2 linked regions of the Homo sapiens genome follow. The protein of the gene in region 2 purifies or fractionates together with the protein of the main gene of each other region. This does not show direct contact. Each region holds a gene or a part of one and is shown on either strand. Other genes may lie near its edges.

Region 1 (3,671 bases), on a different chromosome or scaffold from region 2:
CCAGGGGCTTGCCAGTCAACATGAGCTACTGCACTCCCTGTCCCCCACGTATTCCCAGAAGGGGAATCCAAAATGTGGAGAGGACAAGAATCTGAAATTTCCTAGCTATGACTTAGCCAGGCTGGGATGAGACCTCAGGTCTGACATCAAGGCCCACGCTCTTCCCAGAATCAGGACACAATACATGCCCAAGGGCCAGGCGTGAGCACTAGTGGTCTCCTTAAACTATCTCCCAAAATGCTTCCAGAGGAGCCCCACAGAGACTCCAGGACCTGGGGATGTTGAACCATGGATCAAACATCTAGACCCATGCTACTGTCCAATAGGGTAGCCACGCCTCGTGCGGCCACATACACTTACACGTCAATCGGTTAAAGTGAAATAAAATTGAAAATTGACTTCTTCAGTCGCACTGGCCACATTTCAAGTGCTCAGTCGCCACATGCGGCTGTGGCTACCGTATCGGGAAGTACAGACAGACCCTTCCATCTGCACAGAAAGCCCCGCCAGGCAGTGCTGCTCTGAACGATGACGGACCCCTCGAAGGGGTGGGTCGGCTCTCCCTCTCCCTGTCCAGGATGTAGGCCCCGGGGTATTCTGCTCGTCACTTTATCATCACACCTCATTCAGAAGCAGGATAGTTGTCAAGGCCCCAGAGAGGTAAGGAAAGTCAAGGCTAGGTTAAGGAAACCGAGAGAGTCCTCAAGAGAAAAGAAATAATCTGGCTTTAATCTCACCTTGATCCACTGTTTACAGCGGGGGTCATACCTATAAAGAAGATTGGAGGCCGCATCCCCTCCGTTGTCCCGTGAGAAGCTGCCGCCGGCGATGAAGATGAAGCCCCCCAGCACCGCGACACAGTGGTGGCTCCGCCGGGCGGGCAGCGGCGTCTCTTTGACCCACTGCTCGCTCTTGGCGTCCAGGTAGCAGGTGTCGTCACTGAGCTCCAGACACCGCTCGGAGACCTCGCCGCCCACAAACAGCAGGCGCTCCTGGTTGGTGCGCAGCGCCGTGCGCTTGGTCTGCATGACGGGCTGGGCCGCCAGGTTGTTGTGGTAGCGCACGGCCTCCTCGATGAAGCCCTCGCAGTTGGCCTCCTTGGGCAGCAGCGAGCACACGGCCGGCTTGACGCGGTGCAGCAGGTCGTTCTTGGGGATGAGCGGGAAGTGGATGTTCTCCAGCACCTGGCGGGCGTGGGCCTCGCGCTCGGGCTGCTGCGTCAGCCACTGCAGGGCGGCCTGCAGGAGGTCGTGCTCACACTCCCGCTGCACCTCGCTGCTGCTCAGGTAGACACACAGCTTCTGCATGGAGACGTTCTGCAGGAAGTCGGGCGTAAAGGACAGCGTGCCGAAGTGGTTCAGGATGAAGCCATCGATGAAGGCATCAAGCCGCTTGAGGCTGTAGATGGAGGCCAGCTCCTGCAGGTACAGGTAGTTGTCCTCGCTCACCTCCTGCTCCAGGTACTCACAGCAGAAGTCTACCACCGTCCAGATCTGCAGCAGGTGAGCCGTCTCCAGGACGTAGTCAATGTTGCCGCCATCCAGCACCAGCTCCCCGCCGTACAGGAAGTCCACCACGGCCTTGAGCCCAATGTAGGAGGCGCCGATCAGCTCCACCTCCTTCTGGAAAGCTTCCCGCATGCCGATGGTGAACATGGAGTTGAAGTAGTCGCTGCACACGGCCAGCAGGTTGCGATGGGCTGGCACACGCTGCTCATCGGCCACCAGGACGACGTCGCAGAAGAGCCCGCGGAGACGCTGCTCGTTCAGCCGCTGCAGCACCGTGCTTGAGTGGTCGGCCCAGCGGTATACCTGGACAGAGAAGACACATTAGAAACGGCGCAGCAGCCTGCTCGGCCCTGGTCCAACCCAGTGGGTCCTGACCAGCATTTTCAACAAAATGAAACTGAAGAAAACAGGAAATAAAATGCTGCATCAGAGGGCACTGCAGGAAGTACAGGTGTTTCTGAGTATGCCTGTGTATCGTGGTTTTTTTTTTCCTTCTCTTATTAATATAACTTCTTTCTTTCTTTCTTTCTTTTTTTTTTTTTGACACAGAGCCTTGCTCTGTCGCCCAGGCTGGAGTGCAGTGGCACAACCTCAGCTCACTGCAACCTCTGCCTCCCGGGTTCAAGTGATTCTCCTGCCTCAGCCTCCTGAGTAGCTGGGACGACAGCCCGGCTACTGGAGTTTGAGAGCAGCCTGGCCAACATGGTGAAACCCTGTCTCTACTAAAAATACAAAATTTAGCCAGGCATGGTGGCGTGTGCCTGTAATCCTAGCTACTCAGGAGGCTGAGGCAGGAGAATTGCTTGAACCCAGGAGATGGAGGTTGCAGTGAGCCAAGAGCACACCACTACACTCCAGCCTGGGAGACAGAGCAAGAACTCCGTCTCAAAAAACAAAAAACAAACAAACAAAACAAAACAAACAAGAAAAAACAAAAAACAAACCAAAAAAACCCAAAACCAAACAACACAACAATTCAAGCCAGGCATGGTGGCTCATGCCTGTAATCTCAATGCTTTGTGAGACTGAGACGGGAGAATCACTTGAGGCCAGGAAGTTCGAGACCAACCTGGGCAACATAGCGAGATTCCTGTCTTAACAAAATATTTAAAAATTAGGTGGGCGTGGTGGCATTCGCCTGTAGTCCCAGCTGCTCAGGAGGCTGAGGCAGGAGGATCGCTCAAGCCCAGGAGCTTGAGGCTGCAGTGAGCCATGATTGTGCCACTGCACTCCAGCCTGGACGACAAAAAGAAACCCTGTCTCTAAATAAATAAATAAATGAATTCAACATAGGGAGAAACAGGTAACTGAAAACTATCACATAGATAGCTGGTCTATTCCAGGGTGACTGAGGTGAAGAACTGGCTGGGCACTAGCCTGAAGAGGGGAAATGTGGTTGGAGGAAGAAAACTGACCGAGGGCTATTAGGTATTAGCAGCTATGTGGTTCGACTTTTTTTTTTTTTTTTTTGAGACAGGGTCTCACTCTGTTGCCCAGGCTGGAGTGCAGTGGCACAATCTCGGCTCACTGCACCCTTGACCTCCTGGGCTCAAGTGATTCTCCCACCTCAGCCTCCTGAGTAGCTGGGACTACGGGTGTGTGCCACCATGCCTGGCTAATTTTAAAATTTTTTTGTAGAGACGAGGTCTCACTATGTCGCCCTTGACCTCCTGGGCTCAAGTGATTCTTCCGCCTTAGCCTCCTGAGTAACTGGGACTACAGGCACACGCTACCACGCCTGTCTGATTTTTATAATTTGCAGGGACAACGTCTCCCTAAACTGCCCAGGCTCTGAATTCTTAAAAGTTGCTTCTTAACATGTGTCCTACAGCAGTGGGTTTTATTTTTTTCTTCCCTTTCAAATCTTCTTTTTGTTGCCATACATGCGTTTGTCATTGAGACACTTTATTTCCCTGTGGTATTTCCACATCCAGTCAATTCCAACAGCAACTTCTCTGTCCATGCTACAGGAGCAGGCCACATTCTCACAGCCTGTGGAGGATGCCAGACAGATCCGACTTGGCATTTCCTTCTGAGTTCAGAGGACGGGCTCTCCCGCTCTTCCATTCCAGGCTGGCTTTTCAGTTCACAGGTCACACACGTGGAGATCTCTATTTATCCTGGTTACCCACAAAGAGAGCCAGGCTGGCCTACACCGGGCTT
Region 2 (3,600 bases):
ATTAAGCAAGGCCTAAGTATTAGAATTTCAATTTCATAAGATGTTACATCCTAGAAATAAGGATTTTTTGTTTTCATTTACATTTATTGGACTTTAGGTTGGTGTGAGCCATCAATTACCATAGCTAATTTCTCTTGGAACTCTTTCGAAGTGATTGTACACTATGTCTGACATCATATTTGTCATGCTCAACCTCTAATGAGCTAGCTGATCAATGTATTACAACACAATATGTCAAATATTATTATCAGTGTCCTATAGTGGCCAGGTAAGGATCCTGTTAAGTTTTCTCCAAAACGTAACAGCAAAGTATAATCAAAGTGCAAATGCTCAGTTTTGCTTATTCCTCATCGCACCCACAATCCTGGCAGAAGTATTGCTTGCATATTAACTGAATCTATCTACAAGTCATGAAATGCTTGGCGGTGAAGAAAAAAAAAAAAAGGATTACTGTGTGGCTATATTTAACTACTGGCCTCTAATTAGACCTCCCAAAAAATCTGACCATGTTTAACCTACAAACTAAGCAGGAGAACAATTACATATTTGACCTCTGTCATTTAATCAAAACCTCAACAATGCAAGAGGGTGTTACTTTTGAGCTCTAAAATGTATAACACACAAAAGCTAGTTTTACTGCAGGATTTAATATTGAAAGTTTCCATAATAAAAAGCTGGATAAGCACATTAACATTTCAAATTGTGTGTACAATCAACTTTTACTACATGGATTCTCATTTAACTCAAAGGACTTTTTATATCTCCACTTTGAACACAGAAGTTAAAACTATATAGAGAACAAGACAAGTCAGGACAGATCTGCAAGCGCCAACACTTTCCAGATTTCATAGAACACGAAGACAATACTATTGCCCTTTAAAATTGAGATTATACTGAGGAGTAGTATACGAACCCTGAAAACATAGTAGGTGTTTAAAAGAAGTAGAAATAGGACTAAATAAATAATGGATAACATTTTGGGGAAGAGCTTCCCCAGTTCCTGTCAAAGCTAGTAGTTTAAATTACAACACTGGACCTGCTTCAGATCTCTAAATAGAGGGAAGGGGATGTTGTTCAACAAGAAAAAAATTTAAAAATAATTGAAAAGTATCCTCAAATTTATTTTTACAAGAGAAGAGTGTTTTCTTTAGGAAATACCACTCTAAAAATATACAAGGCTCTTGCAGTAAAAGGGCACAGTGAACACCCAACACTGGCATTAAGATCCACCTCAATTTTGACAGCTTCTTTATCTAATGTTTAAAGCCACCTATGACCAGAGAGAAACGGAAAATATTCGCGCGCTCAAGCAGACCACTTGCCCCAACCCATACTGCTTGGAGTTAAAAGTGCCCTTTGCTGCTCACCCCACCTCCACGAACACTCAGAGATCATAGAAAGATTTAGTCTTAGAACTTCATCCACACCAAAAGGAAAGAAAGAAATGTTAAATCTCCCGGTCTTGCTCACCCCCCTGTGTCCCCTCTGTCCCTGGGGAGACTATGCGCGCCCCTGGAGGTGGGGACTGGGCGACATGCCCCTCCTTGATCCCCAGGTCCCTACACGTTACCCAAGAGACAATGACAAGGAGTCCCAGGGCATCTCCTCAAACTCTCTCTGACCTCCCTCCAGGACAGCTGGTGTGAGCTGGAACAGACAGAACATGGCACGACACGCGGGAATGCAGAGTGACAGAGGGTGCGGTAAGCAGAAGGTGCCGCAAGGAGACAGAACCGAGGCGACCGGGTAAACCCCAGAGACAGCGTAAGAGGAGCAAGAGGGGCCCTCCCAGGGAAGCTACATTTTCTCCTCTGCTACCAGCCTTCTTTCTTTCGCCCACCCCTCCCCCATCCCGCCCTGGGACAGCTACCTTGCCGGTCAGTATCTGAGTTCTGACCGTGCGGCTCAGGAGGGCCTCCACGTCTTGCCGCGCCTCCTCCTTTTGCACGGCGGTAGGGGTATTGAAGGCGATTTTCACCATAGTGAATCTTCGGGCTGCGCGGTAAGGCGCTGCTGGAATCAGCGTCCTGGGCTGCAGACTGCAAGAGGAGATCCTGTTAGCCCAAACAGCACTTACTTTATCTTCAGTCTAACACTACTGCAAGCCGAGGTCTGGGATACTTATGACGCAGTCCCAAACTGGGGGGAGACCGTGGGCGGGCCCAGGGAGGTGCCTAAAGGGAGGAGCGAGAGGGGGCCCAAAAGGGGCCCAAGTGCCTGAGTTGGGGGTTTGCGAGGTGGCGCGGATTTGCCACTGGGGGAAGAGCAGGGGAAGTGGAGTCCGTGGCCGGCTCAGGCTAAACGTGCCTCACCTGCACCTCAGGCATACTCCCACCCACTCTCTGCAACTTCAGATAAGAGCAAGACAGGAAGGAAGCCTGCTGTGTCGTGTCTTTCTGCCTCTGTCCAGGCCACAATAGCCCCTGACTATGACTGTTTTCTCAAACTTGGACCTGACTCCCCGCAGGGCCTGGGACTGTAGCTTGGCAGTAACTCAAACTTCCTTAGTTCTGGACCCACCCAGGCCCCCAAAGCGCCATTCTACAAAGGTTCTGTTCCTTGATAATAATATCTTCCTTTTAAAGGACACCTAGAATCCTGTTTATAGTTACCCAGTTGATTCTTTCAACAAATTGTTATTTTTTTTATTTGCTTGCTTGTGTTTTGAAATTTTAATATCTCAACCTAAGGCGATGCTAGATCAGAAAGATAGGGCTCCTGCCTCCCCAACACCCCATTTTGTAGATAAGACATGATGAGACAGAGAAGGGTGGAAAGCTTACAATAAATTCCTGAAATAATCTAGATTTTTCACTCTTCCAGGTCAGGGAAACCAGTGTAAAGTCTCAACCCAGAGACTGTTTCTGTTCAGCCACCAGCTGTGAAACCTGCAGGGGGAAAAAAAAAACGTGTGTGTGTGTGTGTGTGTGTGTGTGTGTGTGTATAAGTACTTATGTGTTCAGGAAGGTGGAGGTGGAGGTGGAGGATACAAAATTTAGCCAGATGCTAATACCGATCTAATGGAGGAAAAAACAATAACTTCAAAGGGGTTGAGTTAGAAATTATTCTTGGAACATTTACATGTGCAGCCAGTATAATCAAGCTGTTTCTTCACAGTCAGTTTTTCCAGGTTAGTGATACTGATAGAGAACCTTACCAAGTACAATGCAGGCTTTGGAGGTTGCTGACTGGGGTAGCACTGGTACACAGTTTATAAATAGTCCCGCTGCAGAAGACAGGAGAAAGGTCTGTTGTGTGAAGACAGTAGCACTTACCAAAACAACAGCATCAAACAAAACAAAACAAAGAAACAGCTTTTGCTACAGAATTTACCATCTACTCATCTACCTAAGAAACGGACTTAAATATGTTGAGTCGCCACCCCTTCATCCGAAAAATTCCAACTTGGCGTTTTTCCCACTGATGTTTCCTTGACTCAGAAGCCTGTCTCCTGTTTCCACTGTGGGACCTTTGTGAAGACAGCATTCATTTTCTTGGATAGGCCACAGATGGGAAGGTGGATGGAGGGGAACAGCGGGGAGCCTGTGCCTTACTTAGGGCCAGAATCTTAAAAAGCAGGATGTTTGAGTTTGCTTAGAA

What was found. Proteins that work in one complex are often made in the same cells at the same time.
Region 1: the proteins of ITM2A (region 2) and KLHL36 purify together in Homo sapiens (affinity purification with mass spectrometry; 2 studies listed by BioGRID and IntAct, with this or other methods). This does not show direct contact.

What each region holds. Positions count from the first base shown.
Region 1 is NC_000016.10:84,655,011-84,658,681, reverse strand, and holds part of KLHL36 (kelch-like protein 36), read right to left. Parts: intron 1,812-3,671; coding exon 738-1,811; intron 1-737.
Region 2 is NC_000023.11:79,365,235-79,368,834, forward strand, and holds the start of ITM2A (integral membrane protein 2A), read right to left. Parts: upstream 2,101-3,600; 5' UTR 1,982-2,100; coding exon 1,871-1,981; intron 1-1,870.